2 linked regions of the Homo sapiens genome follow. The protein of the gene in region 1 interacts with the protein of each later gene in a pairwise test. Each region holds a gene or a part of one and is shown on either strand. Other genes may lie near its edges.

What was found.
Region 2: the proteins of JAM2 (region 1) and GPR20 interact in a two-hybrid assay, tested with the Homo sapiens proteins (one large-scale study listed by BioGRID and IntAct).

What each region holds. Positions count from the first base shown.
Region 1 is NC_000021.9:25,701,752-25,705,567, reverse strand, and holds part of JAM2 (junctional adhesion molecule B isoform 1 precursor), read right to left. Parts: intron 3,399-3,816; coding exon 3,299-3,398; intron 1-3,298. UniProt on the Homo sapiens protein: Junctional adhesion protein that mediates heterotypic cell-cell interactions with its cognate receptor JAM3 to regulate different cellular processes. Plays a role in homing and mobilization of hematopoietic stem and progenitor cells within the bone marrow.
Region 2 is NC_000008.11:141,357,184-141,360,999, forward strand, and holds part of GPR20 (G-protein coupled receptor 20), read right to left. Parts: intron 765-3,816; 5' UTR 741-764; coding exon 1-740. UniProt on the Homo sapiens protein: Orphan receptor with constitutive G(i) signaling activity that activate cyclic AMP.

The sequences.
Region 1 (3,816 bases):
GAAAAACTCAACGTCAAAGAAAACACATGGTGCCAGGCATGTTGACTCATGCCTGTAATCCCAGCTACTCAGGAGGCTGAGGTGGGAGGACTGCTTGAGGCTAGGAATTTGAGACCAGCCTAGGCAACATAGCAAGAATCCATCTCTAAAAAATAAAAAAATTAAAAAAATTATCCGGGTATGGTGGTGCATTCCTGGAGTCCCAGCTACTCAGGAGGCTGAGGTTGGAGGATCACTTGAGCCTAGGAGTTTCAGATTATAGTGAACTATGATTGCACTACTTCTCTCCAGTCTGGGTGACAGAGCAAGACTGTCTCTTAAAAAAAAGCACATGTCATTGTTATTCTGTAAAACTAAGTGTAAGAAATACGTTCCTTCTTGAATTATATGGGTGTAGATATACAATTATATGTATATGGGTGTATACACACATACACAGTCATATACATATATGCAACTAAACTGTCATCCCATTTATGAAAAATGAATTAAATTCTCTGAGGCTTTTCCTATGACTGTTAAGGCATCCGTCCTCTAATGTAATGCAACTGGATTTTTTGAACCCAAGTTTGGAAATAACTACTGTGAAGTTTTTTTCTTCTTCTCAGATTGATTCTGTTGCCTAATAATTACATTATTAACCTTCCAAGCTTAACATTTCTGCAAATTGAGAATTTTATTAAAAATACTCTCATTCAAGTCATTAATAACATGATGAACATGGATTTGTTTAGGAAACAACTATGTAACAGGCTAGCAGACACCTCCTGTCATACAACACAATTTATTAACATTCTCTGAGCATGGGATTCAACTGTGTGTGGATCCACCAAAATATTGTTTGGACCATATTTCTCCATCTTGTCCATGAGGATTTTATGAGCCACACTCTTCTGCCATTTAGATACTTCCCATGTATTTATTAAAGGAGCAATTCTTCAAAGAGTTCCCATTTTACAAAGCAAGTTTTAATTAGCCTATGATTAAATAACCTAGAGAAAATATTACATAGCATTTTCTCAAAAATAATTTAAATATTTTAAAGCAATGTACATTTTGGAAATGATCTTTTTAGAGATACTGTTTAAGTGAATCTGCTTATCATAAAAACTTCTGGTCTCGAAATTCTTTCCTAATGCCAAGTGTGTTATTAATTTTCTTAAATACCTCCAAAATATTAATTGATTTTTTTAAAAAAGAAAACTTGATAAGTCTTTTGAAAGGTTAAGTAATTTGACCAGAGTAGAAAACATTAATTATTGCTTGGTATAAACTCAGTTTGCTTGGGTATTGAGAGGTCAATAAGATTCAGCTTTTTATTTACTTGGATTAAAAAGAGCAGAGAGAGAAAAAAATCTACAGTAATCATAATCTTAGGCAAAGTCAAATCAGTAAGTGAAATTCCTGAGAACCAAAGTGTACCTTCTATTTACTTTGTAGTAGTCATTAAATCTGACATCTATGAAGCATTCAAAGTAAGGGCTATTATCTGACAAAAAAAAAAAACTGTCTTGTAGTTTGTCAATGAATTTGACATCTATGAAGGAAGGATTCACCCTAAAAGAAACTACTGACAAAAAATTGTCTTGTTCTGTAAGTGCTAAGTTGTAGTATGAATTTTATGTTATTTTTCTTCAGTGAAATGGGAGACAGAAGAGTAATAGATAAGGAGTAAGTTAACTTCTTACATCCTGTTCACCATTTTCTGTGATGTTGAGCAAGTCATACAGCCATATTATGCCTCAGTGAAGAGAAAATGTAACATTAAGTATGAAAATATTTTGTGTTTTTTTTTTTTTGAAAAAAAAGTCTTTATAAAAGGAAGGTACCATTTTTTTTACTGAAAGAAAAGGAACTAAACTGCTGAAAGGCCCAGTGTGGGTGGAGTCTGCTGGAGTTTTATAGTGAGGCAGCCATAAACAACCAACAAATCCATGCTTTACTTGCTGCACTTTGAAAAAATTTCTTTAGGACAGTTAACATATTCTAATTTTGGTTACATGTGAATATAGTTATAATTCACAAAGAAAACCAAAAAAATGAATTTATGAATTTGTATGTATTTCAAAAGATGTAAGTCCCAACCAAGGACACAAAACACCTCGGATCAATGGATGACCGTTAAACAAACTAATTTTAACTTTTAAGCTAACTTGTACTTAGAGTAGATATGTGAGAATCATGTTCAAATTAAAGTGGTCCTAGTGGAGAAACAAACATTTAAATTTTATTCGTTATGTATTTATTGTGTGCTAAGAAAAAGTAACTAATACATCAAAACCATGACTTCCTGGATATGATTCCTTAAGAGAAGGCAAAGGTAGATGTTTAAATTAAACAGGACCATTTAAATGGAAGGAAAAATAAACAGAAATAGTGCTGGTAGGACAAGGTAATGGTAAAAACCATGAGGACAGGCCGGGTACGGTGGCTCACACCTGTAATCCCAGCACTTTGGGAGGCCAAGGTGGGCGGATCACCTGAGGTCAGGAGTTCGAGAGCAGCCTGACCAACACGGTGAAACCCTGTCTCTACTAAAAATACCAAAATTAGCTGGGTGCGGTGGGCATGCCTGTAATCCCAGCTACTTGGGAGGCTGAGGCAGGAGAATTGCATGAACCTGGGAGGCAGAGGTTGCAGTGAGCCGAGATCACGACACTGCACTCCAGCCTGGGCAACAGACAAAGACCCTGTCTCAAAAAAGCAAAAACAAAAACAAAACAACAACAAAAAAAACCCATGGGGACGTATGTGAATAAAGGAAACAAAGAAAACAATGCCTTAATTTTTAAACATGTTGTGATGAATTTTTTTAAATGATAATTTCAAAGCAGCATTGAAAGGGATACTTTCTGATTACTTAAATAAGTGCTACGTTGACTATAAATGTCAACACCTGAATTAATTTGGTGAATAATATCAATGATATACATTCCTGAATTTTAAAAATATCAGAAATTCAAACTTCTGGACCTTCAACAATTTAGACTACAAGATACTTAGCTTTTATTTGAGAGAAAGACTACTTAGAAGAATGTATTTTAAAAACGATTATTTAAAAAACTAAAAAAAGTTGTTAAATACAATACTAAGTATTTTTGGCTTATTTGGGAGATGGCTTAAAAACAGCATCTTTGCTTCTTTGCAACACATCATATCAAGTTAATTTTAGTCATTCTCTCCTGTTTATTCTTCAAGTCACTCAGACATTTCCTGCTCCTTGCTCCTTGTACCCCCAACTGCTGTACTTCACAGTCGAATTGCAAACCATTTGTTCCTCCCAATATTTCATGCTTACCTACTTGCATTCGTTTCCCAGGACACCTGCGATATCCAACAGAATTGCGGGCTTCACAGGAATATTCTCCAGTGTCCAGTTTGGAAACAGTATTAAATTGCTATTTGTGGATGCAAAAATATATTTTTTTAAGCCATAGATCTATAAGTAGACTTTTTAAATAACCCTGTCCCTCAAATTTTAGCATTAAGTTTGTCTTTCCTTTTTAAAAATTTGGGACTTTCTGTCTTTACTATGAATTTAAAAATCTGCCATGACTTCAAGGAGTTTAAGCTAGACTTTTGCTTAATTTGACGAGAAGAACAAAGATAAAATACATACAGAGAAGTTCCTTTTTTTTTTTTTAACCATGAAAGCAGTACTGTTAGGAAGGCAATGAGTGTTTTTTAAAGTTCATAACACATGGTAGTATTAAGTAGTGTAGGTATTTCTAATTCCTAGGAAACATCATTTATAAATGAAGGGCAGGCCTCCCTGGTAAAAGGGTTAATGCACTTTCCTAAGTCACAAGCGAGTTC
Region 2 (3,816 bases), on another chromosome or scaffold:
AGCACCGTGAGCAGGAGCTGCATGGCCCGCACGCGGCGCTGGCGACCCTGGTGGAGCAGACCCGGCCGCGACAGTGCACACATGATGCGGCCGGTAAACACGCTGATGACCAGCAGGGGCAGCAGGAACTCCAGGACAGTCAGCGCAAAGACACGGCAGCAGGGCCGGCTGCCTGTCACGCCCAGCACCGACAGGGTGACGGCACCGGCGGCCAGCCACACGAAGGCGCACACGGCCCTGGCACAGGCAGGCTGGCGGCAGCGGCGGGAGCCTTCGGGCCGCACGATGGCCAGGTAGCGGTCCACGCAGATGCAGGTGAGGAAGAGGATGGAGCAGTGCATGTTGAGGAAGTAACCGAGGACGTGCGGGAAGGCACAGCGCAGGCAGCCCCTGGCGCCGTAGTACACAGCGAAGCGCGTGGGCAGGGACAGCCCTACCAGTAGATCGGTCACCACCAGGTTGATGGTGTAGATGACTGAGGGTGTCTTGGCCCGGGTGCGGCAGCAGAAGACGTACAGCGCCAGCCCGTTGAGCACCAGCCCTGCCAGGAAGATGGCTCCGTGCACCGCCATCAGCGCCAGCCACAGGCCTGGGAAGGTGCCATGCAGCTCCTCGTCCAGCCGGGCAAACAGGTGGAACAGGGGCACCTCCAGCCCGCTGGCATTGGTCCGCACTGTTGTCACTGCGGTGGCATTGGGGACTGCCCCGGCCGAGGGCCCCGCTGGAGACACAGAGGGCATGACGGCAGCCAGCACACCCCAGGCCTGGAAGCAAGGAGACCAGGTCACCCCAGGCGCCAGCCTGGCCTTAAGCCCTGCCCTGAGGCCCAGAACTCAGCTGGCCCGTCTGCCCCTGCACGCCCAGCATCCCCCTTCTCCATGCCCTCGCCTGGCTGGGGCCTCAAATGCCTGCTCCCTTGGCTCTACCCAGAGGGAGCCTCGGACAGCAGCAGAAAAGGCACAGGCTTTCAGAGTCAGACGCGTGTTCAAATTCCAGGACTGGCACTTGCCAGCGTGGAGACTCGACAAAATACGGAGGTTTCTGCGACCGTCCTGGCACGAGGGGGAGGCGGAAACACGTGCGGTGCAGGGCTGTCCTCGGGATGGAGAGCTGATAAGGGCAAGACCACGGGGCTCCAGTGTGCAGTTCCAGGGCCTGGCTCCAGCCCCAGCTGTGCCACTGACTAGTGTGCTTGCTCGGGTAGGCCACTTAACCTCTCTACCTGCTTCCTAATCCATGTCACTGGGATCGCGTTGCTGCTGGGGTGACTAAGCAAGCGGGTCAGCACGGCAGCGCCAGCAGAGTTGGTGGCTGATGACCCAGTTCTGCTGGGACAGAGCCTTGTTCATGGTGGGGACCTCTGACTGCCCTGCCCACTCCCCTGTCCCCACACCCACCGTCATGGCCCCCATCCTCCGGGACCACCCATCTGTTCTCCCCTCCTCCTAGGCCAGCATCAGGTCAATGCCCTGGATGGGGGTCCTCATGAGGGACCTTTACAAAGGGAATTAGGCTGTCCAGTGGGGCTGCATGGGAGCCAAGGACCAGTCTCACTGGGCACCCCAGGCTCCTACTGGCCCTGAGAGGCGGGCACCCCTATGATCCCCCCAAACTACAGAAAAGGAGACAGAGGCCCCTGTGGGGTGGCTGGTTGGGGCTGAAGCCTGGAGCCAGAGTGTGAGTCAAATAAACACCGAGCTCCCGTCTGGCCTGGGCAGGGGGGCCAGGGTGGGGGGCGGGCGAGGGGCTGTGCCGGAGCCACCCACTCTGTTTATGTTCCTGCCCTGGCGTGTTTAACTCGGCAGTGATTTATCCCTCTATTTATAAATGAAGGGTTAACGGCCCTACCCCCACCCTACAGCTGGGCTGACCCTCCAAATAAGGGCATTTCTGGCTTTTTCAGGAGAAAGGAGAAGTCTTTGGGGCCAGCAGGGTGGGGAGGCTCGTGGGCCGTTTCTTCTGCACAGCGCCCCTCCCCCACCTGCTGGAGAAGGGAGGACACTTACCCCTTCCCCTCCTGGTGGCCCCTGCTGTAAACAGGCTGTGCCCCGCCACTCCCTCTGACCAGTGCGTGGCCCCATCCCACCCCTGGGGAACAATGAGCCCTGCCTTCAAACAGCCCCTGGCCTGGCTCAGGGCAGCAAAAGAACTCTTGCTTTCAGAGGGCCAGGTCCCTCCAGTCGGCGGCCACCTTCTTCCTCAGAGTCAGAGAGGTCAGTGCCTGCATGAGGTCACCCAGCATGCCCTCTGCCTCTGGGACCCCAGCCCTGGGTGCGTGCTACCCTGGAGGCTGCTGGGAGGAGTCAAGTGCTGCCCAGGCCTGTGCCCAGCCCCTCCTGCCACCCCCACCACACAAGGGCCCAGGCTCAGCTCCCAGCTCCCCCCGACTGCAAGCAAGCTCTCTATCTCCAGGCCCTGACACGCGGGCATTGATGGGTGCATTTGTTGGATGAATAGGTCTGTCCTCCCTCAGCCCAGGTGTGCCACCAGAGACGGGATTTGGGGGCACAGCAGGCAGCCAGGGGAGGAGAGGAGGCTGGGCACATGGGGGCTGGGAACCTGGCGTCTCAGGGCTGTGGGCTTCAGGAGCCCCAGAAGGTCCCCCCGAAAGAGATGCGTCCCTCCCCTGCTGTGGATGAAACGCTCTCAGAAAAGGTCGAGGCGGCTTTGCAGCTGGACTGAGGGACTGCATGGCCAAAAAAGTATTTTGGGATTCCTTTCTATGTGCCTTTTGCTTTTCCAATTTGTCTGCACGGGGCCTATATTAGTGTCCCAATCAGAGACAAATCATAAACAACACAGAACGTTTCCTGTGGGAGTGAGTCCCAGGGTGATGCTGGCCCCTGGGAATTCTGCTGTCCCAGAAAACTCCCCAGGGCCAGCCCAGCAGGCTCACCAGCAACGCTGCGGTGCTGGGGTCCTGGCTAGGGATGTGGGGGCTCTGCGGTCTCTGGAGCTGGGGGGATGGGCAGAATGTGCTGGACACCCCAGAGGCCAGACCGGAGAGGAGAGGGAGCTAGCAAAGCATGCTCTGATTCCCCGCACTAAGGGTCTGACCCTGATCTCAAACAAAGCTGAACCCTCATCTTGGTCACACACTGAGCCATGATCCCAGTAATGTGATGAACCTCGATCCCTGTCCCACTCTGAGCCCTGACCCTGGTCACACACTGACCCCAATCCTAATAGCACAATGGGCGTTGATTCCTGTGGCGCTCTGAGCCCTGATCCCAGCCACGACCTGGGCCCTCAGCCCGGACCTTCTGTCCCTGTCTCTGCCCTCCTCTCCCAGCTTCGTCTGGCTGTCTCTGTCTCCATATTGTCAACCCCCACCTGCCTCCCACAGCGACGGATGTCCCGATTCGATTATTACGGGGCCTCTCTGGGGCTCCCACTCACCACCCTCTTTGTTCAGAAGGAGGAGGAATGCAAGCGGGGACTCTAGACCCTGCAGGGGCCCATGGAAGTGGCTCCCTGGCGAGTGCCTGGGGAAAGGAGAAGGTTCCGCCCCTCCTGGGACAGCCTGGCTCTGCCTGTGGGAGAGGCACAGACTCTGCTCTCCGGAGGGCCCGGGTGATGAGCAGTCACCAGCACAGAGACCCGGGTTTGAGTCCAGCCCTGCCACTCCCTCAGCTGAGACCTGGGCCTGGTCAGTAGGCTGGCCGTCCTCATCTGCTGAATGGGGTCACTCGTGCCTTCCACAGCTCTGCCTCGCCCTGGTAGCCTGGACTGAGGGGAGAGGCATGGTTTTACCCTCAGAGCCGGCCGGAGAGGGGAGGCAGGGCCCTGTCCCCAAGCCTAGTTTCCCTAAGCCAA